Linked DNA regions of Homo sapiens: all the other regions are linked to region 1. The links come from fine-mapping of genetic effects on gene expression. A gene starts in region 1. Each other region holds a variant in brackets. All regions are shown on one strand. Distances are between the middles of the regions.

Region 1 (11,366 bases):
CTGTGATATCAGTTGTAATGTCTTCTTCATCTCTGATTTTACTTATTTGGGTCTTTTTTTTCTTAGTCTGGCTAAAGGTTTGTCAATTTTCTTCTTTTCAAAAAACCAGCTTTTCATTTTGTTGATCTTCTGAATTTTTTAACTTGTAGTTTCATTTATTTCTGCTCTTGCTCTTTATTATTTCTTTTCTTTTCTTTTTTGTGACGGAGTCTTGGCGCTGTCCCCCAGGCTGGAGTGGAGTGGCACAATCTCGGCTCACTGCAACCTCTGCCTCCTGGGTTCAAGCGATTCTCCTGCCTCAGCCTCCCAAGTAGCTGGAACTACAGGCATGTGCCACCATGTCTGGCTAATTTTTGTATTTTTAGTAGAGATGGGGTTTCACCATGTTGGCCAGGCTGGTTATGAACTCCTGACCTCAGGTGATCCACCTGCCTTGGTCTCCCAAAGTGCTGGGATTATAGACGTGAGCCACCATATTATTTCTTTTCTAATATTAACTTTGGATTTGGTTTACTCTTTTCTAGTTCTTTAAGAAGCATCATTAGGTTGTTTATTTGAAGTTTTTCTACTTTTTTGATAAAGGTACTTACTGCTATAAGGTCTCCTCTTAGTACTGCTTTTGCTGTATTCCATAGGTTTTGGTATGTTTTTCCATTTTCGTGTGTTTCAAGGAGTTTTTAAATTTTCCCTCTTAATGGCCGGGCGCAGTGGCTCGTGCCTATAATCCCAGCACTTCGGGAGGTCGAGGTGGGCGGATCACAAGGTCAAGAAAATGAGACCATCCTGGCCAACATGGTGAAACCCCATCTCTAGTAAAAATACAAAAAATTAGCTGGGCGTGGTAGCGGGTACCTGTAGTCCCAGCTACTCAGGAGGCTGAGGCAGGAGAATTGCTTGAACCCGGGAGGCGGAGGTTGCAGTGAGCTGAGATCGTGTCACTGCACTCCAGCCTGGTGACAGAGCAAGACTCTGTCTCAAAAAAAAAAAAAAAAAAAATCCAACTCTTAATTTCTTCATTGACCTACTGATCATTCAGCAGCATGCTGTTTAATTTCCTTGTGTTTGTATACTTTCCAAAGTTCCTCTTGTTATTGATTTCTGATTTTATTCCATTGTGATCAGAGAAGATGCTTGATCTGGGGCTGGGCATGGTGGCTCATGCCTGTAATCCCTGCACTTTGGGAAACCGGGTGGGTGGATCACCTGAGGTCAGGAGTTCAAGACCAGCCTGCCCAACATGGTGAAACCCTGTCTCTACTAAAAATATAAAGATTAGCTGGGCGTGGTGGTGCACACCTGTAATCCTAGCTACTCAGGAGGCTGAGGCAGGAGAGTCGCTTGAACCTGGGAGGCGGAGGTTGCAGTGAGCCAAGACCGTGCCATTGGACTCCAGCCTGGGGGACAAGAGTGAGACTCCATCTCAAGAAAAAAAAAAAAGAGAGAGATGCTTGTTCTTATTATTATTTTTTTTTTGTAAAGACTTGTGACCTAACATATGATCTATTCTTGACGATGATTCATGTGCTTAGAAGAATGTATTCTATAGCCATTAGATGAAATGTTCCATAAATATCTATTAGGTCCATTTGGTCTATAGTGCAAATTAGGTCTGATGTTTCCTTGTTGATTTTCTGTCTGGATAATCTGTCCAATGCTGAAAGTGGGAGGTTGAAGTCTCCAACTGTTATTGTACTGGGGTCTATCTCTTTCTTTAGCCCTAATAATATTTGCTTTATATATCTGAATGCTTCAGTATTGGCTGCATATATGTTTACAATAGTTATATTCTCTTGCTGAGCCTCTTATTATATAATGACCTTCTTTACCACTTTTTTTTTTTTTTTTTGAGACAGAGTCTCACTCTGTCACCCAGGATGGAGTGCAGTGGCATGATCTCAGCTCATTGCAACCTCCACCTCCCGGGTTCAAGTGATTCTCCCACCTCAGTCTCCCGAGTAGCTGCAATTACAGGCACCTGCCACCACGACCAGCTAATTTTTTTTTTTTTTTTTTTTTAGGCAGAGTCTCGCTCTGTCGCCCAGGCTGGAGTGCAGTGGTGTGTTCTCAGCTCACTGCAAGCTCTGCCTCCCGGGTTCACGCCATTCTCCTGCCTCAGCCTCCCAAGTAGCTGGGACTACAGGCACCTGCCACCATGCCCAGCTAATTTTTTTGTATTTTTAGTAAAGATGAGGTTTCACCATGTTAGCCAGGATGGTCTCAGTTTCCTGACCTCGTGATCCTCCCACCTCGGCCTCCCAAAGTGCTGGGATTACAGGCATGAGCCACCGAGCCCAGCCTAATATTTGTATTTTTAATAGAGATGGGTTTTCGCCATGTTGGCTAGGCTTGTCTTGAACTCCTGACCTCAGATGATCCACTCACCTTGGCCTCCCGAAGTGCTCGGATTGCAGGTGTGAGCCACTGCGCCTGGCCTCTTTTTTTTCTTTTTCTGTGGAGATAGCATCTTGCTGTATTGTCCAGGCTGGTCTTGAACTCCTGGGCTCAAGCAACTCCTGGGTTCCTCTTGCCTCGGCCTCCCAAAGTGTTGGGATTACAGGCATGAGCCATCACACCTAGTCTTAAAATCTATTTTATCTGATATAAGTATATAGCTACTTTTGCTCTTTTTTGGTTTCCATTAGAATATCTTTTTCCATCCCTTTATTTTTAGTCTATGTGTGTCTTTATAGGTGAAGAGTTTTTATAGGCAGCTAATCATTAGGTCTTTTTTTTTTAAATCTATTCAGCCACTCTATGTCTTTTGATTGGAGAGTTTAGTCCATTTACATTCAATGTTATTATTTATAAGTAAGGACTTACTACTGCCATTTTTAAATTTGTTTTCTGATCTTCCCTTCCTCCCTTCCTTCCATCTTCCTTTTTATGAAAGTGATTTTCTCTGGTGGTATGTTTTAATTTCTTGCTTTATATTTTTGTGTATCTGTTGTAGGCTTTTTGATATGAGTTTAGCATGAGGCTTGCAAATACCATCTTATAACCCATTATTTTAAACTGATGACAACTCTGATTGCAAAAACAAGCAGAGAAAACTAATACTCTAACTTCATCCCTCTGATTTTTAACTTTTTGTTTCTACAATATTTATATCTTATTATACTATGTCTTAAAAAGCTGTAGTTATTATTTTTGATAGGTTTGCCTTTTAGTCTACTACTCAAGATATGAATAGTTTACATATTTGTAGAGGTGCCACCTTGGTGATCTTGGGTACGATCTTGGAGAATTCCCTGGATCACCGTTAGCAGTGACGAGTCTGTACAGGTCTGCAGCAACTCGATTCTTGCCTCCTCAGAGGAAAGAATTTGGCCAAGCAGCATAAGGCAGAGTGAGAGACCAAGGCAAAGTTTAAAGCAGGGGTAAACGTTTATTAAAAAGTTTTAGAGCAGGAATGAAAGGAAGTAAAGTACACTTGGAAGAGGGCCAAGCGGGCGACTTGAGAGATTCAAGTGCCCCGTCCGACCCTTCACTGGGGGTTTCTATACATTAGCATGGTTCTGAGGTTTGTGCCCTCCCTTGATTTTTCCTTGGGGTGGGCTGTCTGCATGTCAGTGGCCTGCCAGCACTTGGGAGGGGCCGCATGTGCAGTGTGTTTACTGAAGTTGTGCGCATGCTCATTTGAGGCATTTTCCTTTACCAGTCGAGCCTTCCCAGAGGAAGGTTATATACCAGTTAAAATCTGCCATCTTGCCTCTTACTATGTATGCATGAGCCTGCTTGCCCAACTCCTGAGATCTTATCGGGAAGCTGCTGATCACCAGCTTCAAGTGTTTTCTATCTTTTTTTTTGAGATGAAGTCTCACTCTGTTGCCCAGGCTGGAGTGCAGTAGCGCGATCTCGGCTCACTGCAACATCCGACCCCTGGGTTCAAGCGATTCTCCTGCCTCAGCCTCCCGAGTAGCTGGGAGTACGGGCATGCGCCACCACGCCCAGATAATTTTTGTATTTTTGGGTAGAGATGGGTTTCTCTGTGTTGCCCAGGTTGGTCTTGAACTCCTGGCCTCAAGTGATCCATGTGCCTTTGCCACCCAAAGTGCAGGGATTACAGGCATAAGCCACCAAGCCCGGCCCAGAAATGTTTTCTTTTGGGAGGATTTATCTCTTAATCTTTACCGCTTGGCCTTGCCAACTTAATTTGCAGATTAATTCCCCCCAAAGACAGATGGGGAATAACAGAAATATTTAAGTGTTTGACAGCTTCCTCTTAGTAACGTTCTCCTAGGCTTCATTCCAAGATATCAAGAGAGGTAAACATTTTGCAGTCTTCCAGAGAGGAGCTGAGGTACACGGGAAAAGTTTCATGCTCATGTTACAACTGTAGTGACCCACAGTTTTTCAGGGAGTATAAGAAAAAGATAACACCCAGTGTCAGGCCCTTATAAAGCCTCAACTTTCAGAATCCTTTCACAATGTTAGATTTGCTGATCAATGAATATATAACTGAACATTAAGAGTAATAATGGGGCTGGGTACGGTGGCCCATACCTGTAATCCCAGCACTTTTAGAGGCCAAGGCAGGAGGATCACTTGAGCCCAGGAGTTTGAGACCAGCCTGGGCCACATGGTGAAACCCCGTCTCTATAAAAAATACAAAAATTAGCCGGGTGTGGTGGTGTATTGCCAGTTACTTGGGAGGCTGAGGTGGGAGGATCAGCTGAGCCCAGAAGTTTGAGGATGCAGTGAGCTATGATTGTGCCACTGCACCATTCCAGCCTGGGTGACAGAGTGAGACCCTGTCTCAAAAAGAAAAAAAAAAAAGACTAATAATGGCAAACATTTACTTGGCATTTACCGTCAGTCAGCCACAATGCTGAACACCATGATTGTCTCAGCTAAAGGATACACCACCTCTCTGATAGTTAACAAGTAACTGATCATTAACTGAGTGCTTACTGTATGCCAGCCATTGGTTTAACCTCATTAGATATGTTACCTCATTTCATCCTCACACAATCCCCAAGGAAGGATTATTATCATCCCTTTTTTATAGATGAGGAAGCTGAAACTTAGAGAGGTTGACTTGCCCAAAGTCACTTAACAGCTGAGAATATCTGTGGAGGGAAGGCGAAATCCCATGCCAGGCAGCCTGACCTCAGACCCTGCACTCTCAGTCCCCAAGCCGTGACAATATTTGAAATGTTCTGAGGCTACTGATATAAGAAAAAACAATTTTTTTCCAGACAGAATTTTGATTCTTTCACATCTGTCCTATTGCTGGGCAAAACCTCTTGTGTGTTCTGTGATTGGATCTGCTTTCAGAGTGCTGAGAGCTCTGTGCAGGGGAGAAAATCCTTCAAAAACCTAGGAGAATGATAATAAAAGCAATAGTGATAATAAATGATAATGATAAGAATTATAAAAATATAAATTTTATAAAATTATAACATATAAGTATAAAATTTACAAAATATATACTTATATAAAAGATAAATATATATAAGATAAAATATAAATACATATATATTTTATAAGATAAATAAATAAATAAATATATTTTTGAGACGGAGTCTGGCTCTGTCGCCCAGGTTTGAGTGCAGTGGTGCAATCGCGGCTCACTGCAACCTCCGCCTCCCAGATTCATACAATTCTCCTGCCTCAGCCTCCTGAGTAGCTGGGATAATAGGCGCCTGCCACCACGCCTGGCTAATTTTTTGTATTTTTAGTAGAGACGGGGTTTCACCATGTTGATCAGGCTGGTCTCAGACTCCTGACATTGTGATCCGCCCGCCTCGGCCTCCCAAATTGCTGGGATTACAGGCATGAGCCGCCAGACCCGGCCTATATGTATTTTATATATATCAAGTATGTATATCTGATATATATATATAAAACAAAGTATATCTATTTTGTAAATATATATTTATTTTATAAAAATATAAAATATAAATAATACATCATAAACGATAGTAAAGATAATAAACACAGCGCGGCAGCCCCATCCCCTTTTTCTACTCACCCCTAAAACAAATCCGTATAAAAATCAAGTTTATTAAGGAGCAAGTCCCACCCTTTTTATTTAGAAGCCAGTGTCTATAGGATCGCTCTTGGCTATTGTTGGATTAATTCCAGGGTAGGGGAAAACTCCAGTTTTTGAGCCGGACACGCACTCCTGCTTTTCAGGACCTTTTTAATTTTGATGTTTTCAACTTTTAGGCCCAGGGGTCCATGTACAGGTTGCTATATAGGTAAATTGCGTGTCACGGGGGTTGGGTGCACAGATTGTTTCGTCACCCAGGTACTAAGTGGAGCACCGGATAGGTAGTTTTTCAGCCCTCACTCTCCCCACCAGAGTCAAGCAGCAAAAATGCTAGGCCTTGTGGGCGGGGCCGGGGTGCCCGCTCTTGCCACTGGTCCAATCACAGCGCGGCGTTCCTCCTGGCCGGCCGCCGATTGGTGGTTGCCATAGCTCCGGGCGTTCGCTTGCAAGATGGCGGCGGCGGGGCAGTGGCTGCTGCGTTTTCGTGTCTGAGTCCTTCCTGGGTTCTAATGAGGGCGCGGTTCTGCTGTGCCCGGCCCGCGAGGTCTAAGGCATGGGCTTCCAGCCTCCGGCCGCTCTTCTTTTGAGGCTTTTCCTTCTGCAGGGCATCCTGAGGCTTCTGTGGGGGGACCTGGGTGTGTACGGCGCGGCAGTGACCTCGGTGGGCCGGGGCTGAGGGGACTGGGCGTTAAAAGGGCCAGACTTGGACTCCCCCGGGAGCTTCGGGAGTCGACAACGCCAAAGCAAGCCGCCACACACACCTTAGGCGGTGATTCTTCCACTGCTAACCCCTCCTTGTCCCCTTTCCTTCCCGCCTAGCTTTCATCCCTCCTTTTATCCGAATGTCCGGCCCTGCGGTCAGCGCGTCCCTGGTCGGAGACACCGAGGGTGTGACCGTGTCCCTGGCAGTGCTGCAGGACGAGGCGGGTAAAGTCCGGCCCTCTTTTGGGGAGGGTGGGGGTTGGACTGGATCCAGACCTCCCAAGGAGCCTGGAGAGGTGGCATCCTTGGGGCCCCCTGCCTCTGTTCTCTGCAAAGTCGCATGGGGAGAAAAGGATCGGGCGGCTGCTGTAGGCCAAAGAGGACAGACGGACAGGTTCGAAGAAAGCCTGAAATAATAATGGTTAGCATTCATTGAGCTAACATCGTGCATCATCCCATTTTCCTAGTAAGAACAGTAATATCTTTTCATCCCCTTTGACCAAGGAAGAAACAAGTTCAGAGAGGTTGTCACTGTCCCAGTGTCAAGCAGCTTGTAAAGGGCCCAATCTTAGGCTGTAATGTGAGTCCATCCTAGGCAGTCTGACTCAATGCACCCCCTGAGCTGCTGGACCTTGCTGCCTTTGCATGCTGGTCTTCTTTCTTTAGGAATATTGCCAATTCCGACGTGTGGAGTGCTGAACAATGAGACGGAAGACTGGAGCGTGACTGTGATCCCCGGTGCGGTAAGGCCAGAAGTAAACCTTCTCTGTAGCCTGTGAAGAGGCCCCCAGCTAGGGTTTCTGCAGTGCTCTCTTTATTTAACAAGGCATGGCTTTCTCCATGCTCTCAACAATCATGAAATTGTGGGCTGTTGGATCTGGTAGACACTTATCCAGCCCACGGGTTCCTTACCCTGGGGTTAGGAGTCCTTGGATGTATTTCAGTGGGTCTGTGAACTCTATGAAATTGTATGTAAAGTTCTGTGTGTATGTGCATTTTTCTGATGAGAGGGTCACCAGTTTCCTTTAGATCATCAAATGGGTCAGTGATTCAAAAAAGCTTTATGCCAGGCATCGTGGCTCACGCCTGTACTCATAGCGCTTTGGGAGATTGAGGCGGGAGGATTGCTTGAGCCCAGGAGTTCCAGACCAGCCTGTAACATAGCGAGACCTCGTCTCTACAAAACAATTAAAAAAAAAATTAGGTGGGTGGCGTACACCTACAGTCCCAGATACTTGGAGGGGGGTGGGGTAGCTGAGGCAAGAGGATTATTTGAGCCCAGGAGTTCAGGGCTGCAGAGAGCTATGATCGCACCACTGCACTTCATCCAGCCTGGGCAACAGAGCAAGACCCTGTCTCTTAAAAAAAAAGAAAAAGCTGGTCAGGCGCGGTGGCTCACGCCTGTAATCCTAGCACTTTGGGAGGCCGAGGAGGGCGGATCATCTGAGGTCAGGAGTTCAAGACCAGTCTGGCCAACATGGTGAAACCCATCTCTACTAAAAATACAAAAATTAGCTGGGCGTGATGGCGGGTGCCTGTAATCTCAGCTACTTTGGAGGCTGAGGCAGGAGAATCACTTGAACCCGGGAGGCAGAGATTGCAGTGAGCCGAGATCACGCCACTGCACTCCAGCTTGGGTGATGAGCGAGACTCCGTCTCAAAAAAAAAAGCTTCATAACCACTGATCTTGCCCAACTCTGAGCTTATGTGTAAGGATACTCAAACCTGGAGAGATTAAGCATCTTCTATTTAATAAGTGTTTATTGGATACCTAGTATATGCAACATCAATTCTGGAGAGAAAAGGACAGGAAAGACAAGCTCTGCTTGTACCCCAGGAGTGAACATGTACATGTCTAAAGTCATTCTGGGATAAACTGAGGATTGTTTTCATTGACTTTTTTTGTGTATTTACTCTTCCACTGATAGGATGATAAAGAAACTAAAAAGGTGTACAATAAACTGAGTTTATTTATCAGATCTGTGTTTAGCTTTCTCTAAGTATCCCGAAGTTGTTTGCTTTTATGTTAAGGAAGAAGAATCAGGGCTTGCATGTTACCATAGGTTTATGGGGGGGAACTGAAGATAACTGTGTCATCTCTGTATACATTTCCCTTTTATAAAATGAACGGAGGCTGATGTGTACTTTTATTGTGTTTTCCATTATGTATTCTTATAGACCCTGTTTTGAGTCACTTTAAAAATACAGCAATGTTTTCCTTTCAGAAGGTGTTGGAAGTGACAGTGAGGTGGAAGAGAGGTCTGGACTGGTGTTCCTCCAATGAGACAGATTCCTTCTCAGAGTCCCCCTGTATCCTCCAGACCCTTCTGGTTTCAGCATCTCATAATTCATCCTGTTCAGCACATCTACTCATTCAAGTGGAAATTTATGCCAACTCTTCTCTGACCCATAATGCCTCAGGCAAGTGAAGTCTTTGACTGTCAAAACTTTCATGTTGTTCCCAGCTACTTAGGAGGAAGAGGTAGGAGGATTGCTTGAGCCCGGGAGGTTGATGCTATAAATGAGCTGCCCGGGAGGTTAATGCTACAAATGAGCTGTGATCGCGCCACTGCGTTCCAGCCAGGGTGACAGAGTGGGACCCTGTCTCAAAAAAAACCAAAAACAAAAACAAAAAAAGAAAAATTTGTGTCAAGCTTACCTGTTTGATTATAAGTGTATGCCATGCAATTTGTAAAGTATACTTCACTTGAGTCTGTCTTGCTTTTCTAAACTTATTTTTCTTTTGTTTAGTTTTCTTTTAAGAAATTTCATTTTGTACTATTTTATTTAACATTTATTTGATCTTTCTCTACTGTTTGCATCTTTATAAGCTACCTTGAATCCTTTTTGGGAGAAGGTGAAATTTGTTTATGTACATTGATTCTCTCTCTTTTTTTTTTGAGATGGAGTCTAAGTCTGTCACCAGGCTGGAGTGCAGTGTTGTGATCTCGGCTCACTGCAACCTCCACTTCCTGGGCTTAAGCGATTCTCCTGCCTCAGCCTCCCGAGTAGCTGGGACTACAGGCTCACGCTACCACGCCCAGCTAATTTTGTACTTTTAGTAGAGATGGGGTTTCACCATGTTGGCTGGGATGGTCTTGATCTCCTGACCTTGTGATCCGCCTGCCTCGGCCTCCCAAAGTGCTGGGATTACAGGCGTGAGCCACTGTGCTCGGCACGTGCATTGATTGTCATGACTGCATCTTAAGAAGAAAAAAGGAAGGGTGGCCAGACGCAGTGGCTCCCACACTGTAAGTGCTTTGGGAGGCCAAGGCGGGGGAATTTCTTGAGCCCAGGAGTTCGAGACCAACCTGGGCAACACAGCAGATACTGTCTCTATAAAAAATTTTAAAAAGCTGGGCATGATGGTGCCTGCCTGTAGCCCTAGCTACTAGGGAGGCTGAGGTGGGAGGATCGCTTGAGCGTAGGAGTTTGAGGCTGATGAAGTTTACATCATTTCCAGCTTTTTTTAAAATTTATTTTTATTTTCATTTTTTTTAGAGACACGGTCTCACTCTGTTACCCAGGCTGGAGCTAGAGTGCAGGGGCACGATCCTGGCTTGCTGCAGCCTCAACCTTCCTGGTTCAGGCGATCCTCCTGCCACAGCCTCCATAGTAGCTGGGGCTACTGGCGTGCACCACCACACCTGGCTAGTTTTTACATTTTTTGTAGAGACAGGGTCTCACTATGTTAGCCAGGCTGGTTTTGAACTCCTGGGCCCAGGTGATCCTCCCACCATGGCTTCCTGAAGTACTGGGATTACAGGCAGGAGCCACTGCACCTGGTCTGTTCCCAGCTTTTGATGCTACAGCAAAGATCGTTATGCCCGTGTACATGAATCTTTGGACATGAGAAAATGGTTTTGTGTTCATCTCCGTCTCACATGATGTTAGTGTTCTTAAACCAAAAGAGCTTTCAACTAGATGTGCCGATGTAGAGGGCTCTGCAGTGATGAGTGCTACTGCCATGTCCCCTGTCTCCGGTGGCGAACTCTGACATCTCTTGCCTTTATGGCCACGTGGCATGGAGGGAGAAGCGTTCCAGACTTTAGTAGCAAAAGTCTGTTACCTGGAGACTCCTTTACTGCCGCTTCCCTTATTACATCCCTAACTGTGGTCCTCCTGGTGCTTCTGGAAGTTTAGGATGATAAGACAAGTTTTGACAGCTCCTTTCAGCAGACTACTGTGCCCTCAGTGTACTTGCATGGAAAGGCCTCCATGATGAATGAAGTGAAAAAAGCAAGTGCAGATGGCTGCCTACAGTGTGCTATCTTTTGCATAAAGGAGGCAGAAATGAAAACATTTGCATAAAGAAATTCTGGAAGGATGTTGGAGAAGCTAATAATGTGCTACCAAGTTGGAGGATGATGTGGGAACAGGAAAGGGCTGACAGTGAGGAATTTTTTAATATGCTTTTGATTTTTTGGAACCATGCAAATGTGTTACCCACTTAAAAGTTTTAAATTTTTCTATGGCTTAAAATTCAAAACAAAGCCAAAAAAACCGTATTCAATGATGAAAAAAAAAATCCCCCCAAAACAACAGAAGGGATTCATGATAGCTGTACCATTCAAAGCACTGACTTTTTTCCTTTGAGAAATATGCTTGAGGCCAGGTGGTGGCTCATGCCTGTAATCCCAACACTTTTAGAGGCTGAGGTGAGTGGGCC
Region 2 (8,832 bases), 32 kb after region 1:
TGCCTCAGCCTCCTGAGTAGCTGGGATTACAGGCATGTGCCACCTCACCTGGCTAATTTTGTATTTTTAGTAGAGATGGGGTTTCTCCATGTTAGTCAGGCTGGTCTTGAACTCCTGACCTCAGGTGATCTGCCCTCCTCAGCCTCCTAAAGTGCTGGGATTACAGGTGTGAGCCACTGTGCCCAGCCTTGTTTTTTGTTTTTTTGTTTTTGTTTTTTTTTTTGACAGTAGCCATCCTAATAGATACTAAGTGGTATCTCATTGTGGTTTTGATTGCATGCGTTCTTTTTGGCTTGTTTTTTGAGACAAGGTCTCACTCCATCACCCAGACTGGAGCGCAGTGGTGTGATCACGGCTCGTTGCAGCCTGACCCTCTTGAGCTCAGGTGATCCTCCCACTTCACCCTCCCGAGTATCTTGGAGTACAGGTGTGTGCCTGGCTGATTTTTCGTATTTTTTGTAGAGATGGGGTTTCACCGTGTTGCTCAGGCTGCTCTCAAACTGCTGGGCTCAAACGATCCTCCTGCCTTGGCCTCCCAAAGTGCTGGGGTTACAAGCATGAACCATTATGCCCGGCCTGCATGCACTCTTACACACGTTTTATCTGTTACATATCCCAAGATGTGTAGTTCTTTGGGAAGCAGGAAGAAATGGGGGTAACATTGAGAAGTTAAGGAAAACTGGTATAAATTATTGGCAGCAGCTCCTGATTATAGGTTTTGAGGCCTGAGTCCATGGGCAGAGTCCCTCTCCTGCAGTTCATGAGATTTGTACCCTCCAGTGACAGTACTGGGAAGGAGGGAATGCTACGTTCCAACTCTTAGTCTTCACTTAATTTTATGACTCAAAATTCCAGCTAGATATATAGGTTACTTTTACTGTTGGATCACTCTGGCCCACGAATGTATCCTGCTAACTTGATGTGTGCTCTAACTACCTCCTAAGTTTGGTGACAGTCGGCAGAGTTTGTGAACCATGTGATTCCCAACTTAAGTTACTAACATTTTTTTTTTTTTTTTGAGACAGGATCTTGCTCTGTCACCCAGGCTGGAGTGCAGTGGTACGATCTCAGCTCACTGTAGCCTTAACCCCACCAGGCTTATGCGCTCCTCCCACCTCAGCCTCCCAAGTAGTTGGAACTATAGGTGCATACCACCATGCCTGGCTAATTTTTGTATTTTTTGTAGAGGCAGGGTTTTGCCCTGTTGCCCAGGCTGGTCTTGAACTCCTGAGCTCAAGCAATCCTCCCACCTCAGCCTCCCAAAGGGTTGGGATTACAGGTGTGAGCCACTGCACCCGGCCAAGTTACTAACATTTTAAGTCTAAAGTAAAAGATTGCTTCTGTATGTTCTCCCCCAGGTGTGTGGGTCCATCCTGGGAAGGCCATCAGACACACCTAGTCCATGGGTGACACCCAGCCAGTTTTTAATGCCAGTTCCTCTGGCAGTTTTTAATTTAGGCACTCGGAAGTGAAACCCGGACATTCACTGGAAATGACTTTAGGACAAGACCTGCTGGCCATGAGCTGAGAAATGTCTTACTCTCTTGCAGGGAGAATGCTGTTGAAAGACTTGATTCATTAATACAAGCGACTCACGTTGCAATGAGAGGCAACTCCGATTACGCTGATCTTAGTGATGGCTGGCTCGAAATAATACGTAAGTCAAACCCGGGTACAATAAAGCCTGTAACTTGGTTGCTGTGACTACCAACTGTAGTCGCAGCATTAGAGCCCAACCCAGTAGGTCATCTTCCTGAGGCTTGACTGCGGCTTAACTGGACGTTTGCCCAGGGGTTAGATCTCCAGGCAGGAAACTTGGCATGTCTTTTTCTTCTTATTCACAATGACTTTTTTGATTTTCTGTTTTTGTTTTTTTGAGACAGGGTTTCATTCTGTCACCCAGGCTGGAGTGCAGTGGTGCAATCACAGCTCATTGCCTCCTCATCCTCCCAGGCTCAAGGGATCCTCCCGCCTCAGCCTTCCAAGTAGCTGGAACCACAGGTGTGCGCCACCACATCTGGCTAATTTTTTTATTATTTGTAGAAATGGGTTTCGCCATGTTGCCCAGGCTGGTCATTAACTCCTGGGCTTAAGTGATCTGCCCACCCCAACCTCTTAAACCCCAACCATGTTGGGATTACAGGCATGAGCCATTGCGCCTGGCCAACAACAGTCTTTGTGAAAGAAAGTCTAGGCTGGGAGCAGTGGCTCACACTTATAATCCCAGCACTTTGGGAGGTCAATGCAAGAGGATTGCTTGAGGCCAGTTTTTTTGTTTGTTTGGTTGGTTTTTTTTGAGACGGAGTCTTGCTCTTGTCACCCATGCTGGAGTGCAATGGCACAATCTCGGCTCACTGCAACCTCTGCCTCCTAGGTTCAGGTGATTCTCCTGCCTTAGCCTCCCAAGTAGCTGGGATTACAGGCGCCCACCACCACCTGGCTAATTTTTGTATTTTTTAAATAGAGACGGGGTTTCACCATGTTGGCCAGGCTGGTCTCGAACTCCTGACCCCGTGATCCACCTGCCTCGGCCTCCCAAAGTGCTGGGATTATAGGCGTTAGCCACCGTGCCAGGCCGAGGCCAGGAGTTTAAGACCAGCCTGGGCAACATAGTGAGACCTTGTCTCTATGAAAAATTTAAAAAATTAGTCGAATGTGGTGGCATGTCCCTGCAGTCCCAGCTACTTGGGATGCTGAGGAAAGAGGATCGCTGGAGCCTAGGAGTTTGAGGCTACAGTGAGCTCTGATTACACCATCACACTCCAACCTGGATGACAGAGCAAGATCCTGACTCTAAAAATAAAACAAAATAAAATAAAATACATTAAAACAAAGTCCAAGCAAGGTTTGAAGATTGTTAGTGCACTTCAGTTTGCATTGCTGTTTTTGATTGCCAGGAATACAGGCATTTGAGAATTGACTTTGTAATTTATAAAGGTAATTTTGTTAACTTAAAAGAAAATAAAGTGATTGAAAATATTGTGATAGAAGCCAGACACAAAAGACCACATATTGTATGACTCAATTTATATGCAATGTCCAGAATGGGCAATGTATAGAGACAGCAGATTAGTGGATGCCGGAGGTGGAGGAGTTGGGAGGAAATGGGGAGAGACTGCCGTGGGTAAAGGATTTCTTCGCAGAGTGATAAAATGTTCTAAAATAGAATCTGCTGATAGTCACAGCTTTGTGACTATACCAGAAACCATCGAATTGCACACTTTAAGTAGGTGGATTGTATAGTATGTGAATTATATCTCAATAAAGCTGTCAGGAAAGAAAGTAATTAAGGTGCAACAGATCGGCTGGGCACGGTGGCTCATATCTGTAATCCCAGCACTTTGGGAGGCCGAGGCGGGTGGATCACGAGGTCAGGAGATCGAGAGCATCCTGCCTAACACAGGTGAAACCCCGTCTCTACTAAAAATAAAAAAAAAAAATTAGCCGGGCGTGGTGGTGGGCGCCTGTAGTCCCAGCTACTCGGGAGGCTGAGGCAGGAGAATGGTAGGAACCCGGGAGGCGGAGCTTGCTGTGAGCCGAGATTGCGCCACTGCACTCCAGCCTGGGCGACAGAGCAAGACTCCGTCTCACAAAAAAAAAAAAAGGGTGCAACAGATCTAATAATAGCAGGGATCATGGGGGCCAGATAGAAAGACTTGACAGCTCAGTGCCTCTGGCCAAAGGTATTTGCAGTGTTGAATTGGCAAGTAGCTCGTACACAAAGGGAAAAAGATATACCACATGTACATGGAATAAAGGTAAACCAGACTTTAAAGCTTCTTCATCAGGCCTGATTTCACCTCTGAATCCAAAATATCCTTTGAGTCATGGAGATCCAGCTCATCGGGTTATGTTGGAGAGGCCTAAGGTCACAGTGAGTTTTGGCAGAGCTAGAATGAAAACCTGGGGTTCCAACCTCTTTCCTCTGTTCCCTGGTAGCAAGTTAGGTAACTTCCCGGTTTCTTGGGGAGCCTTGAGTCTGTAAATACTTTGAATGGAAAGCTTTTTTTATTGAGCTAATTAATGGAATTGCCTTTTGGGACCAGAAAGAGCCCAATGAGTGTGCGCATCTGCTTTGCCCCTGCCCAGCTCTCCCTGCAGATGCTGCTCTGCCCCTCTCCTCTGCCTGGTGGGTAGGGATCAGCCCTCTGGATCCTGTCCCTACCCTTTCCATCTCCTCTGAGGTCAGCTAGGCTCAGTAGGCTGGAATTCACACAACGGCCCATACAGACACACACCTGTATTGTGCCTACTCCTTGTGATTGGGGTCATGGTGATGAGGACCCTCCCTTCCCCCTCTTGGTCATGGATAATGTGATATGTCTGTGAGCTTGAGGTGCCCCAGACCACTCTCTGACTTGGGGAGGGAGTCCTGTTGGACTCCACCCCCACGGGGCACTCAGGCTGCTGTTTGCTCATCTAGCTGGTGCTCAAGGCACTGGGCCCAGACCTAGATCCTCATTTGCAAACGGAACCCAGAGGTCGAGCTTGTCAAGCCCTGGGCTCTGCCACCCAGGCCAGCTAGATAGGCTGTGGAATGACCCTGAGGGCTGGAGAAAAGTCAGCAGTTGGGAAATAAACGGTAGGGAAAATGTCCAGACGGAGAACCCAGGTTGATGAGGTACGAAATCAGTGTGGTGATGACATTTTGTTGCCTTCAAGGTGGAAGGGGTTAGCTTTTATTTCATGTCTGAGCCAAAAAGCAACCTTGATCCTGGTTAATAAGCAGAAGAGAAGTGGTGTTGACACATGTATAAGGAAATTAGACATAAAACAGTGTTACTGACCTTCGGAATCCCTGAAGGAGCAAAGAACCCCCTTCAGAGGAGCCATAGAACCTACCCTACTTCCTCCAATTGACCTTGCTGGGTTTTCTCCAAGACGAATGCAAATTCATTTCTCATTCAATTTCATTCTCTTCCAATTGTATTAATACTATGGTAACACATTAGGAAATTACTTACCTATCTAATACATACTAATTAAAGTCGTTAGTGTGGATTTTGTTTTATTATTATTTTTTTTTCAATTATTATCATTATTTTTTTTTTGAGATGGAGTCTCACTTTGTTGCTGGAGTGCAGTGGCATGATCTCGGCTCACTGCAACCTCCACCTCCCAGGTTTCAAGTGATTCTCCTGCCTCAGCCTCCCAAGTAGCTGGGATTACAGGTGTGCGCCACCATACCTGGCCAATTTTTGTATTTTTAGTAGAGACAGGGTT[T/C]CACCATGTTGGCCAGGCTGGTCTCGAACTCCTGACCTCAGGTCATCCACCCACCTCAGCCTCCCAAAGTGTTGGGATTACAGGCGTGAGCCACCACGCCCGACTGATTTTTATTTTTATTTTTTGAGATGAGGTTCTCACTTTTGTCCAGGCTGGAATGTAGTGGTGCCATGCCATCACGGCTTACTGCAGCCTTGACTTCCCAGGCTGAAGCAATCCTCTCACCTCAGCCTTCTGGGTAGCTGGTGTGTGCTACAGGTGTGTGCCACCATGACTGGCTATTTTATTTTTCTCGAGGAGACAGGGTTTTGCTATGTTGCCCAGGCTGGTCTCAAACTCCTGGGCTCAAGCAGTGCTTCTACCTTGACCTCCCAAAGTGCTAGGATTATAGGCATGAGCCACTGTGCCTGGCCTAAAGTTGTTAGTATGGATTTTAAATGTCTTACACAGCTTTTACTAGAACTGTGACTGCATGGAATAACGATGGCATTTCACTGCAATTATATATGTTTCTGTTAAAAGGCTGGGTAGATTTCAGTGGGAGCTTGGAAACTGAATCATGATTTATGGCTTTAATATGTGGGTCAGGGCTTTTAAGTTCCAGTGACTGGCTAACATACAAGGAAACTTTTTTTTTTTTTTTTTTTTTGAGACAGAGTCTCCCTCTGTCGCCAGGCTGCAGTGCAGTGGTGTGATCTTGGCTCACGGCAAGCTCCGCCTCCCAGGTTCACGCCATTCTCCTGCCTCAGCCTCCCAAGTAACTGGGACTACAGGCGAGCACCACCACGCCCAGCTAATTTTTATACTTTTAGTAGAGATGGGGTTTCACCATGTTGGCCAGAATGGTCTCGATCTCTTGACCTCGTGATCTGCCCGCCTCAGCCTCCCAAAGTGCTGGGATTACGGCGTTAGCCACCGCACCCGGCCCATACAAGGAAACATTTTAAACACAATTTTTATTAGTGCCATCCTATGCCTTGTAGACTTTAAGGGATAACACAGTTATGGAGTGACAAGTAACTAGAGCCTGTAAGAGACTAAAGCCTCATTAATGTGATGCCTGCCTGATATTATTCCCCATTTTGGTTATTACGACATTGTAGGAAAACTTATCAAATTATTCTTTGAAAAGTGTATAACTTAACATTTCTATAGGTGTAGATGCCCCTGATCCAGGTGCAGACCCGCTGGCTAGCAGTGTGAACGGCATGTGCCTGGATATTCCTGCTCACCTGAGCATCCGCATCCTCATCTCGGATGCTGGCGCGGTGGAAGGGATTACTCAGCAGGAGATACTCGGTGTAGAGACAAGGTATGATCACATCTTGGATCACCGTAGTTTAGAGAGAGTCAGGAAAGTTGAGAGCATCCCAAACAATAGGGAAATGTTTATTTAGAAACTGATTGTTTATTTACAACTTGCAATTATTAGCAAGATGTTTATATGCACATATGGAATATGTACGAACTATGTGTATAATGGAGACTTATTCTCACAAGTATTTATAAAGCCATATGTAAGAGAGTCTGCAAGTTATTTTAGGGAGTACAAAGATGAATAAAGGGCCCCTTAGTACTAAGTATATTTTGAAATCCATGGATGTAACTGATAATCTGATCAGAGAATATTGTCTGTGGTTAGAGACTTTGGCAGCAGATAGGTTCAAATCATGGCTGTCCTACTTAGGAGCTGTGTGACACTGGCCAATTACTTAACCTTTCTGAGCTGTAGTTTCCTCCTCTGTAATATGGTGATAATACCTTTATGTATCAAGCCTCCATCAGTTTTTTTTTTTTTTTTTTTTGAGACAGAGTCTTGCTCCGTCTCCAGGCTGGAGTGCAGTGGCAATATCTTGACTCACTGCAACCTCCAACTCTCTAGTTCAAGCGATTCTCCTGCTTCAGCCTCCCGAGTAGCTGGGATTACAGGCACGTGCCACCATGTCCAGCTAATTTTTGTATTTTTAGTAAAGACAGGGTTTCACCCTGTTGGCCAGGATGGTCTCAATCTCCTGACCTCATGATCCGCCCGCCTCGGCCTCCCAAAGTGCTGGGATTACAGGCATGAGCCACCGCGCCCAGCCTGCCTCCATCGGTTTTAAGTGACAGGCGCCCAGTTCATACTGACTTAAGCAAAAAGGGGAGTTTATTGGTTCAAGTTCAGAGTAATCCACATACAGCTAGTTCATGGTTCATGGTTCCAGTGTGGTCAGGGATCTTTTTGTTTTCGTATCTCAGCTCCTCTTCCTTTGGGTTGGCTTCATTCTCAGGGAGGTTCTCCTCAAGAGATGGCAAAGATCAGCACCAGCAATCCAGGCTTATGTCACTGCAGCAAGTCCAGTGGGGAGAAAGCCCCTTTCCTCCTCTTTCCTTTCTTTCTTTCTTTTTTTTTTTTTTGAGACGGAGTTTTGCTCTTGTTGCCCAGGCTGGAGTGCAGTGGTGCCATCTTGGCTCACTGCAACCTCCACCAACCGGGTTCAAGCGATTCTCCTGCCTCAGCCTCCTAAGTAGCTGAGGTTACAAGCATGTGGCACCTCGCCTGGCTAATTTTGTATTTTTAGTAGAGATGGGGTTTCTCCATGTTGGTCAGGCTGGTCTTGAACTCCCAACCTGAGGTGATCTGCCTGCCTCAGCCTCCCAAAGTGCTGGGATTACAGGCATGAGTCACCGTGCCCGGCCCCTCCTCTTTCTCAAAATAGATCTGGGCAGACTTTTATTGGTTCAGTTTAGGTCATGTGCTCCTTTCTGAACCAATCCCTATGACTGGGGCAATGGACAGCTCTTATTGGCTAGGCTCAGGTGATGGGTGCACCTCTGGATTAGGGCCAATTCCTTCTGCTCCACTGAACTGGAAATGGAGAGTGGTGGCTCTGCAAGGGAAAATGGGAGTGCAGTTACCACCTCCGCAGTACTCTTCTGAGGATAACATGAGATGGTGTGTTGCAAGCAAGTTATCTCTGTGCCTCGAACGTGGAAAGCCCTCAATAAGTGGCTAGCTGCTGCTTTTATTATTATATTGTTTGAGAAAAACAGGTGATGAACAAAGGTACCTTTGATAGCACCTGTATACAATGCACTGGCTGGAGAGGAGTGAGACTGACAACAAGACTGGCAGATGTTGCTGGGCGACAGGCCCATGAGGGGTTATTAGGAGTTTCTCTTCTCTTTGGATCTGTCTGTGGAAATGGTCAAAGACCATGGACAAATACTGAGAAAAAACAGCCCAGGTAGAATGCGAAACTTCTTAGGAGAACCTCAGGTTATATTGTGATTGCATCCGTTACCTGCTGTTCTTGGTGGAATAGAACTGAATGGTGGCTATGCTGACCATGTGATCTTTCCCTCCTAGGTTCTCCTCAGTGAACTGGCAGTACCAGTGTGGGCTTACCTGTGAGCACAAGGCCGACCTTCTCCCTATCAGTGCATCCGTCCAGTTTATTAAAATTCCTGCACAGTTACCCCACCCCCTGACAAGGTACTCCAGTTGCTCACCTAGTTGACATTAGGAAGCAGAAAAATATATATTTGAAAATTGGAAGTTTATTCCTTTAATCAAGTTCTGATACTTCTCACTTGTAGTTTTTGTAACCCTCTAAAATGTTTTCTAGA
Region 3 (11,366 bases), 100 kb before region 1:
GATGGGGTTTCACCATGTTGGCCAGGCTGATCTTGAACTCCTGGCCTCAAGTGGTCTGCCCGCCTCAGCCTCCCAAAGTGCTTGGATTACAGGAGTGAGCCACTGTGCCTAGCCTCCTTTTTTGTTTAAAATTTATTTATTTATTTATTTATTTATTTATTTATTTGAGACAGGGTCTTACTCTGTCTCCCAGGCTGGGGTGTGGTGGTGATCATGACTCTGCAGCTTCAAAGTCCTGGGTTCAAGCGATCCTCCTGCCTCAGCCTCCTGAGTAGCTGGGACTACAGGCACGTGCCACCACACCCAACTAATTTTTAGATTTTTTGTAGAGACAGGGTCTCGCTTTGTTGCCCAGGTTGGGCTCAAACTCCTGGGGTCAAGCGATCCTCCTGCTTCGGCTTCCCAAAGTGCTGGGATTACCGGCAGGAGCTACCGCGCCTGGCCAGGGGACTCTCATGAGCACCAACATTTCTCAGGAGTCTGAGCAGTCATCAGGCCACCTGCCTTACCTGTCCTGTCCCAGGGCTAGATTACAAGGCCTGGCAATCTGAAATAGCTGCCCACCCACACACTTCTTCGTGACTTTCCACAGTTGCTGCTGCGGCTCTTCGTTTATTCTCTTCCATCTCCTCCTCCTTTTCCTCCTTCACTTTGACAGTCTTGGGGGGGTCATGACTAATTTTGATGTCCTCATTGCATTGTGTTTTTTTGTTTTTTGTTTTTTTTCAGACAGAGTCTCACTCTGTCACCTAGGCTGGAGTGCAGTGGCACAATCTCAGCTCACTGCAACCTCCACCTCTGGGGTTCAAGTGCTTCTCCTGCCTCAGCCTCCCGAGCAGCTGGGATTACTGGCACGCACCACCATGCCCAGCTAATTTTTGTATTTTTAGTAGAGATGGGGTTTCACCATGTTGGCCAGGCTGGTCTCGAACTCCTAACCTCAAGTGATCCACCCGCCTTGGCCTCCTAAGATGCTGGGATTCAGGCGTGAGCCACCATGCCTGGCTGCATTGTTTTTTAATTTTTAAAAATTTTTCATAGGGACAGGGTCTCACTATGTTGCCCAGACTGGTCTGGAACTCCAGGGCTCAAGCAATCCTTCTGCCTTAGCCTCCCAAAGTGCTGGGATTACAAGCGTGAGCAACCGCACTCGGCCATCACGGCATCTTTAAGCACCAGAAATGTCATTTAGCACTCACGGTCTGTTCTGCACTGCCTTCTCCTTAGTTGCCAGACCCCATCCCCAAGGACACTGTATGAGAGATATGATCAGACTCCCCAAAACCCATCTTGGGAAACAAGAAACTTAGCAACTGGATTTTACCTGCATTGGGCACACTTGCTGAATTTCAATGTCTGCTTCTTTCTGAAGAGAGATTACCAGTAAATGCTAATGCTACATTTGTGTAGATTTTTCCATAACAGTTGCATTAACCTGGTTAATGCAACCTGTGCTTCTGTGCTTCAAGAATCTCATCCCTTAATGGTTGAGTTCTTCTTTTCTTTTTTAAGACAGGGTCTGGCTCTGTCACTCAGGCGGAAGTGCAGTGGTGCAGCGGTCTGATTTTTTCTCACTGCAACCACTTCTTGGGCTCAATCCATCCTCCTCACCTCAGCCTCCTGAGTAGCTGGGACTACAGGCTCATGCTACCACACCCAGATAATTTTTGTATTTTTAGGAGAGACGGGGTTTCACCATTTTGCCCAGGCCGGTATCGAACTTGTGAGTTCAAGTGAGCTATCCGCCTCAACCTGCCAAACTGCTGGGATTACAGGCGTGAGCCACCACGCCAGGCCAATGGTTGAGTTCTTAATTTAAACAAATATTGGCCAGGTGCAGTGGCTCACGCCTGCAATCCCAGCATTTTGGGAGGCCGAGGTGGGCAGATCACTTGAGGTCAGGAGTTCAAGACCACCCTGGCCAGCATGGCGAAACCCCGTCTCTATTAAAGATACAAAAATTAGCCAGACATGGTGGTGGGCGCCTGTAGTTTCCGCTACTTGGGAGGCTGAGGGAGGACAATTGCTTGAACCTTGGAGGCAGAGGATGCAGTGAGTCGAGTTTGAGCCACTGCACTCCAGCCTGGGCGACAGAGAGAGACTAAGTAAGTAAGTTAGTAAATAAATATATATATATATTTTTATATATAAATAAATAAGTAAATAAATATATATATAAAATATATAAAGAAAAATATAAATATATATAAATATATATAAAATAAGTAAGTAAATAAATAGATAAATATATACTTATTTTTTGAGACAGAGTCTCGCTCTGTTGCCTAGGCTGGAGTACAGTGGCACGTGATCTCCGCTCACTATAACCTCTGCCTCCTGAGTTCAAGCGTTTCTTCTGCCTCAGCCTCCCAAGTAGCTGGGATTACAGTTGCCCACCACCACGCCTGGCTAATTTTTGTATTTTTCTTAGAGACGGGGTTTCACCATGTTGGCCAGGCTGGTCTCGAACTCCTGACCTCAAGTGATCTGCCCGCCTCGGCCTCCAAAAGTGCTGGGTGTGAGCCATTGCACCTGGCCAAGAAAAAACATTTAAAGAGAAATATTTAAAAAGTAGAAATCACCCATGGCTTTGTTTTGGTTCCCTAGAAAACAGGGCCTGAGGTGAAGATTAGGAGCTAATGCTTTATTGGAGAGGAGAATGCCAGGGAGGTGAGGGTGAGGGAGAAAGGGAAGGAGGCACAAAAGGAGGGGGAGCAGGCCGGGCGCGGTGGCTCATGCCTGTAATCCCAGCACTTTGGGAGGCTAAGGCAGATGGATCACGAGGTCAGGAGATCGAGACCATCCTGACCAACATGGTGAAACCTTGTCTCTACTAAAAATAAAAACAATTAGCCGGGTGTGGTGGTGGGCGCCTGTAGTCCCACTTACTTGGGAGGCTGAGGCAGGAGAATCCCTTGAACCTGGGAGTCAGAGGTTGCAGTGAGCTGAGATCACATCACTGCACTCCAGCCTGGGCAACAGAGAGAGACTCCGTCTCAAAAAAAAAAAAAAAAAAAAGGAGGTAGTGTAAGTTCATGACAGAGCATCCCAGAGGCAGCCCCAACTTCACACCAGCACTCAGCCAGTTGCTGGTCTTCTGGGGTGTCTCTGGAGAGGATGTAGGAAAGCAGTGAATCTCAGAATGTTCTGTTAGTGCAGAGTGTAGCAATGGGAAGTGTGTGGTGGGTATGGGGAGGGAGGTGAACAATTTATCCGCCAGCTCCTTCACGTCCTCATTTGTTTTCCCCCTGGGGCATTAGCCTCCCCCCATTTGCAGGTGGAGCCCCTCTTGGGGGGTGTCGGTCTTGGATGCAGAGGTGGCTGCAATTCTTTGCCCCTGACCTTCAGAGACAATCGGAAATGTTAGGAGCTGAAATGACTGTGGCACTGGGCAGAGCTTTATAACCATGGAACAGTGTGAGCCGTCGCTGATGCTGTCTGCGCCAGAGAGAAAGGTAAGTATGTGATTTCTGGGGGTGGGGGGCACAGGTGGGATGAATGGATTCGGATTTGCCATTTCCATAATCCAACATGAGAAAAATTATGTATTTAAGCTGGGTGTGGTGGTGCACACCAGTAGTCCCAGCTACTCTAGAGGCTGAGGTGAGAGGAACACTTGAACCCAGGAGTTTGAGGCTGCAGTGAGCTGTAATCAGGCCACTGCACTCCAGCCTGGGTGACAGAGGGAGACCCTGTCTAAAAACAAAAAGAAAGGCATGGTGGCTCGCGCCTGTAATTCCAGCACTTTGGGAGGCCAAGGCGGGAGAATCACCTGAGCCCAGGAGTTTGAGACCAGCCTGAGCAATATTGTGAGACCCCGTCTCTACAAAAGATACAAAAATTAGCTGGGCATGGTGGTGTGCACCTGTAATCCCAGCTACTTGGGAGGCTGAGGCAGGAGGATCGCTTGAGCCCAGGAAATCGAGGCTGCACTGAGCTGTGATTGTGCTACTGTACTCCAGCTTGGGAGACACAGGCTGGAGTGAAAACAGAGAAAAAATAATGTATTTAAAAGAAATCCCTCCCATCTAATTTCTACTCCTAGGTAACTACTGTTGACAGTTTGGTCCATGCTTTTCCTGATAATATAAATATTTGCATATCTGTACACACTGTATGTCTAAACATACACTTAGTTTTAAAATGGAAACACGACATACAAACATACAAAAAAAGCAGTTTGCTTTTTTCACTTAATAATACCCTATAATCATTTTTCCAGCTCAGCACATATAGATCTACCTTATTTTTTAAAAATAGATAATTCCTGTTTCATTCTTTTATTTTTTATTTTTTTTTATTTTGAGACAGAGTTTCACTCTTGTTGCCCAGGCTGGAGTGTAGTGGTGCAATCTTGGCTCACTGCAACCTCTGCCTCATAGGTTCAAGTGATTCTTGTGCCTCGGCCTCCCAAGTAGCTGGGACTACAGGCAGGTGCCACCACAGGCAGCTAATTTTTTTTTTTTTTTTTGAGATGGAGTCTTGCTCTGTCACCCACGCTGGAGTGCAGTGGCGCGATCTCGGCCCACTGCAACCTCTGCCTCCCGGGTTCAAGCGATTCTCCTGCCTCAGCCTCCCGAGTAGCTGGGATTACAGGCTCCCGCCACCGCGCCCAGCTAACGGGGTTTCACCATATTGCCCAGGCTGATCTCGAACTCCCTACCTCAGGTGATCCACCTGCCTCGGCCTCCCAAAGTGCTGGAATTACAAGCATGAGCCACCATGCCTGGCCTAATTTTGTATTTTATTAGAGATGGGGTTTCACCATGTTGTCCAGGCTGGTCTCAAACTCTTGACCTCAGGTGATCTGCCCACTTCATCATTCTTTTAAATGATTGTGCAGTCTTTTGTTTTATGTATGTACTGCAATTTGCTTGATCATTGTTCCCTTGGTGGTCATTCACTCTGTTTTCTGGTTTGGACTATTTTAAACAATGTTGCATTGCAAGTTTACACTTAATTTTTGGTCCCCTCAACTTCATGAAAAGTGGCCAAAACATGTTACCTACTCATCTGCCCAGTGCTTTGGTTCCTGCCTATAAATTGGCCACAGGGGAGAAAGGCTAAAGGCAACAGCTCACCGCCGCTGAGACGAAAGCCCAGAGCATGCTGGGGGCCCCACCCGCAGCCATGCATCTTTGTTGTTTTTTTTTTGAAACGGAGTCTCCCTCTGTCACCCAGGCTGGAGTGCAGTGGCGCGATCTCGGCTCTCTGCAAGCTCTGCCTCCCGGGTTCCCGCCATTCTCTTGTCTCAGCCTCCCGAGTAGCTGGGACTACAGGCGCCCACTACCACGCTCGGCTAATTTTTTGTATTTTTAGTAGAGACGGGGTTTCACCGTGTTAGCCAGGATGGTCTTGATCTCCTGACCTCGTGATCCGCCTGCCTCGGCCTCCCAAAGTGCTGGGATTACAGGCGTGAGCCACTGCGCCTGGCGCATCTTTGTTTAAAAAAATTTTTTTTTGAGATGGACTCTCGCTCTGTCTCCCAGGCTGGAGTGCAGTGGCACGATCTGG[G/A]CCCATTGCAACCTCCACCTCCTGGGTTCAAGTGATTCTCCTGCCTCAGCCTCCCGAGTAGCTGGGATTACAGGCATGCGCCACCACACCTGGCCAATTTTTGTATTTTTAGTAGCTATGGGGTTTCGCCATGTTGGCCAGGCTGGTCTTGAACTCCTGACCTCAGGTGATTCGCCCACCTCGGCCTCCCGAGATGCTGGGATTGTAGGCGTGAGCCATCGTGACTGGCCCCACACTAGCCCTTTTTCAGTTTTCCAACTTGTCAATGTCAGTACCCTCATACAATGCTAGTAGGAGTGCAATTGGTCAAACCACTTTGGAAAACTGGTGTGAAAGTTGTCAGAATCAAAATGGAGTCATCTGTGTTACAAAACAAAAACCAAAATCACCTTGACGAGCAGAGCCAGGGAAGCTGATGAAGGGAGGATTCTCATGCACGAATGCCAGATAACAAAAACTATCACAAAAGCCTGCAAAACCCACAACCTTGCACAAAGGCCATCACAATCTTACATTAAAAATACTCGTTCGAAGACATCTGCCCAGCAACTGCCTATCTAAACTTGGACTGGTGCACTTTTATTATTGATCTTTGTAGCCAAAGATAATTATCTCAAAACAATTATGTAGTTCTCCTCATTTTTCCTTTAAAAACCTTTGTCTTCCTTTATTTCCTTGAATACACATACACTTTAGTATGGCACACATATTCCCATTGCAACGTCCTATTCCTGAATAAATATCATCTTCTTTTAGAAAGACTCTCTGTCACGGAGATCGAGACCATCCTGGCTAACACAGTGAAACCCCGTCTCTACTAAAAATACAAAAAATTAGCAGGGTGTGGTGGTGGGCGCCTGTAATCGCAGCTACTCGGGAGGCTGAGGCAGGAGAATGGCGTTAACCTGGGAGGCAGAGCTTGCAGTGAGCCGAGATCGCACCACTGTACTCCAGCCTGGGCTACAGAGCAAGACTCCGTCTCAAAAAAAAAAAAAAAAAAAATTAAGCCTCTCTGTTACTTAGGTTGACACTGGCAGTATCTACTAAGTCTAAGCATACACCTCCCCTATCACCCTGCAATTCTGTTGCTAGGTTTAAACCCAGCAGAAATCAGAAAATAATGCGCACAACAACTTTGCTCAAAATCATCCAAAACAGGAAATAAGGGGAATGTCCATCAGCAATAGAATGGATAAATAAATTCTTACAGCGAAATGTTATGCAGCAATGAAAAGTAACAAGCAATTCCCAATGCAACAGTAGGAATGACTCTCACAGCTATAACATTGTGAGAAATTAATCAGGCACAAAGGAGTCCACACTGTATGGCTCCTTTTGTATGAAATTTCTGAACAGGCAAAACTAAGTTCAAGGGATTGAAAGCAGAGTAGTGGTTGCCTGGTAGGAGGTGGGAGTGGGGACTGACTGCAAGGAGGCACAAGGAAGCTTTTCTAGAGTGAAGGAAATGATTCTATCTTGATTGGAATTCTGGTTACACACCTGTATTTTTTGTTTTTGTTGTTGTTGTTTTGAGGTGGAGTCTTGCTCTGTCTCCCAGGCTGGAGTGCCGTAGTGTGATCTCAGCTCACTGCAGCCTCCACCTCCCGGGCGATTCTCCTGCCTCAGCCTCCCAAGTGGCTGGGATTACAGGTGCCTGCAACCGCACCTGGTTAATTTTTGTATTTTTAGTAGAGACAGAGTTTCTCCATGTTGGCCAGGCTGGTCTCGAACTCCTGACCTCAAGTGATCCACCCACCTCGGCCTCCCAAAGTGCTGGGATTACAGGCATGAGCCACCATGCCTGGCCATACACATGTATTTCTTAAAATGCAGTTAATCTGGCTGGGTGTGTTGGTTCATGCCTGTAATCCTAGCACTTTGGGAGGCCAAGGCGGGTGGATCATTTGAGGTCAGGAATTTGAGACCAGCCTGGGCAACATGGTGAAACCCCGTCTCTACTAAAAATACAAAAAAAAAAAAAGAAAAAAAAATTAGCTGGATGTGATGCTGCACGCCTGTGGTCCCAGCAACTTGAGAGGCTGAGATGGAAGGATCTCCTGAGCCCAGGAGGTTGCAGTGAGCCAAGATGGTGCCACTGCACTCCAGCTTGGGCAACAGAGGGAGACGTCATCTCAACAAAATAAAAAAAAATTAAAAAAAAATTAGCTGGACATGTTGGCGCATGCCTGTAATCCCAGCTACCTGGGAGGCTGAGGCCAGAGAATCACTTGAACCCAGGAGGCGGAGGTTGCAGTGAGTTGAGATGGCGCCACTGCACTCCAGTCTGGGTGACAGAGTGAGACTCTGTCTCAGGAAAAAAAAAAAAAGAAAAAGAAATCTTTTCTTATTATACTTCAATTTTATCTTCACGTTCTGGACTATCCTTTTCTTTTCACTTTAATTTCCTAAATCTTTCTTTAAGTATTGTTTCTCCCTCTTCACTAATATTCTCTCCCGTGGATCCAATAATCAAGAATGCCCCCTTCCAGAGGTTGCAGTGAACCAAGATGGTGGCACTGCACTTCAGCCTGGGCAACAGAGAGAGACTCCGTCTCAAAAAAAAAAAAAAAAAAAAAACCAGGCTGGATGTGGTGGCTCACACCTGTAATCCCAGCACTTTGGGAGGCCAAGGCAGGCAGATCACAAGGTCAGGAGTTCGAGACCAGCCTGGCTAATATGGCAAAACCCCATCTCTATTAAAAATACAAAAATTAGCCGAGCGTGGTGGCACATGCCTGTAATTCCAGCTACTCAGGAGGCTGAGGCAGAAGACTTGCTTGAACCCGGGAGGCGTAGGTTGTGGTGAGCTGAGATCACTGGAGCCACTGCAAGCCAGCCTCAGTGACAGAGTGAGACTCCGTTAAAAAAAATAAATAAATAAAGGAATAACCCCCTTGCCTGGGTGAAGTGGCTTGCACCTGTAATCTTAACACTTTGGGAGATGGAGGCGGGAGGATCACTTGAGCCCAGGAGGTCAAGACCAGCCTAGGCAACGTAGGGACATCCTATCTCCACACACACAAAAATAGAAAATTATCTGGGCATGATGGCTTGCACCCATAATCCCAGCTACTCAGGAGGCTGAGGTGGGAGGATAGCTTGAGCCTGGGAGGTTGAAGCTGCAGTGAGCTGTGATCATGGCACTGAACTCCAGCCTGGGCAACAGAGTGAGACCCTGTCTCAAAAAAATTAATAATAATAATATTATTATTAATAATAATAAAGAGTGCCCTCCCTTCAATACTCCTGTAGCATTCTCTCTGTCTCTCTCTTTTTCTTTTTTTTTTTTTTGGGACGTTGTCTTGCTCTTGTTGCCCAGGCTGGAGTGCAGTGGTGTGATCTTGGCTCACCGCAACCTCTGCCTCCCAAGTTCAAGTGATTCTCGTGCCTCAGCCTCCTGAGCAGCTGGGATTACAGACGCACACACCATGCCCGGCTACCAGGCTGGTCTTGAACTCCTGATCTCAGGTGATTCGCCTGCCTTGGCCTCCCAAAGTGCTGGGATTACAGGCATAAGCCCCCGGGCCTCGCCCTCCTGTAGCATTTTCTATCTGGATTACACCATTCAGTCTGTGTTCGTTACTTCCCGACTCCGAGCCCATCCCAGAGGCCTGGGGATCCTGCGAACCTTCCTTTACCTTCAGTAAATGTCTCACATTTAGACCTTTCACTGTTACAGACAGTTACAGACTCCCCACTGTTGACATTGAAAGAAAGTAGTGATGTTACCTTTAAATCTGTGTTCCCTTACCAGACCATACTGCCCATGAATTAACATTTTCCAGAAATCCCATAATTATCTTGTGACTACCACAGTTACACTGTATTGCATTTTAGTGTTAAAAGTGTTAATTTAGGCTGGGCATGGCTCATACCTGTAGTCCTAGCACTTTGGGAGGCTGAAGCAGGTGGATTGCTTGAGCTCAGGAGTTCAAGACCAGCCTGGGCAACATGGCAAAACCTTGCTAGAATAGAATGGAATGGAATAGAATAGAATAGAATAGAATAGAGTAGAGTAGAGTAGAGTAGAGTAGAGTAGAGTAGAGTAGAGTAGGTTAATTTAATCAGATTCCAATTGATGGTAATTTAATTGTTTCCATTTTTTTAGTTGTCATAAAAAATGCTGCTATGGGCCAGGTGTAAGTAGCTCATTCCTATAATCCTAGCACTTTGGGAAGCCAGGGTGGAGGATTGCTTGAGCCCAGGATTTCGAGGCTGCAGTGGACTATGATTTCACCACTGCACTCCAGCCGGGTGACAGAGTGAGACTCTGTCTCTTAAAAAAAAAAATGCTGTGTGGGGGCGGTGGCTCACGCCTGTAATCCCAACACTTTGGGATGCCAAGGCAGGTGGATCACCTGAGGTCAGGAGTTGGAGACCAGCCTGGCCAATGTGGTAAAACCCCATCTCTACTATTAATACAAAAATTAGCCAGGCATGGTGACACATGCCTGTAATCCCAGCTACTCTGGAGGCTGAGGCAGGAGAATCGCTTGAACCCGGGAGGCGGACGTTGCAGTGAGCCGAGATCACGCCATTGCACTCCAGCCTGGGTGACAAGAGTGAAACTCCATCTTGGAAAAAAAAAAAAATGCTGCTATGAACCTTCCTGCCCATATACCTTTGGGCATATTTTACTGTATTTCTTTGTAATAGATTCCTAGAATAATGGAACTTGCTGGTTAAAATCTTAATAGATATTATCTAAAAGCCTCCAAAATGATTTCTAATGCATTCCCCCACCAATTGGGTATGAAAGTACCTGTTTCCCCCGTTCCCATCACTGGATATTATTAGAGATTTAAGTTCTTGCCAATTACATGGGTGAAGAAATGTGATTTCTTTTCCTTCTTCTTCTCCTCCTCCTCCTCCTTCTTCTTCTTTTCTTTTTTTCTTCTTTCTTCTTTTCATAGAGACAGGGTTTCACTGTGTTGCCGAGGCTGATCACGAACTCTGGGACTCATGCAATCTGCCTGCCTTGGCCTCCCAAAGTGCCAGGATTACAGGCATGAGTCACCGCTCCCAGCCAGTGCTGATGTTTCCTGTCACCTGCAGAGTTTTAACAGAAAGTCATTTCTTTGATGTGTCGCACATCCACACATCTTAATTTCATGTTATATGTATCTGTAACTGGATCTAATTTTTTTCTTTTCTTTTTTTTTTTTTGGAGACAGGGTCTCATTCTATCACCCAGGCTGGAGTGCAGTGGCATGATCACGCGTCACTGCAGCCTTGAGCTCCCCAGCTCAAGCAATCCTCCCGCCTCAGCCTCTCTAGTAGCTCAGACTATAGACACGCACCACCACATCTGGCTAATTTGTGTTTTTGCAGAGACAAAGACTCGTCATGTTGCCCAGGCTGGTCTCAAACTCCTGTGCTCAAGCAATCCACCTGTCTTGGCCTCCCAAAGTGCTGGGATTACAGGTGTGAGCCACTATGCCTGGGCTTTTTTTTTTTTTCTTTTTTTGAGACAGGGTCTCATTCTGTGGCCCAGGCTGGAGTGCAATGGCACAAACACAGCTCACTGCAGACTCAACCTCCCAGACTCAAGCAATTCCCCTATTTCAGTGGCTCAGAGGCCCCCACACTCAGCCTCCTAAGTAGCTGGGATCACAGGCACTCGCCACCACGCCCAGCTAATTTTTGTATTTTTTGTAGAGACAGGGTTTCACTATGTTGCCCAGACTTGTTTCAGACTCCTGGGCTCAAGCGATTCTCCCACCTTGGCCTCGCAAAGCGCTGGGATTATAGGCATGAGCCACCGCTCCCAGCCACCATCTTCCATTTTAAGAGATTCTATTCCCTTTCTTATAAATCCTGAGTGGTTCTATTCCCCTAAACTGTAGCTCTTT

The links. PIP is the estimated chance that this variant, and not a neighbour inherited with it, causes the effect.
Region 2: its variant is the best candidate, but not a certain one, in a credible set for the expression of TCTN2 in whole blood (INTERVAL, PIP 0.67).
Region 3: its variant is the best candidate, but not a certain one, in a credible set for the expression of TCTN2 in whole blood (TOPMed, PIP 0.68).

What each region holds. Positions count from the first base shown.
Region 1 is chr12:123,664,693-123,676,058 of GRCh38, forward strand. TCTN2 (tectonic family member 2) reads left to right here and starts at 6,421. Exons shown (of 18, transcript NM_024809.5): 1 at 6,421-6,630; 2 at 6,815-6,922; 3 at 7,364-7,440; 4 at 8,923-9,118. The coding sequence starts at 6,549.
Region 2 is chr12:123,698,154-123,706,985 of GRCh38, forward strand. It overlaps TCTN2 (tectonic family member 2), which reads left to right. Exons shown (of 18, transcript NM_024809.5): 14 at 1,551-1,657; 15 at 6,379-6,535; 16 at 8,573-8,698; 17 at 8,832. Among named protein-coding and RNA genes, the nearest start is that of ATP6V0A2, 9.8 kb to the right of the region's middle. RefSeq lists a silencer at 1,456-1,631. The variant T/C (reference allele first, on the strand shown) is at 5,224.
Region 3 is chr12:123,560,002-123,571,367 of GRCh38, forward strand. No RefSeq gene overlaps it. Among named protein-coding and RNA genes, the nearest start is that of TMED2-DT, 19 kb to the right of the region's middle. The variant G/A (reference allele first, on the strand shown) is at 5,515.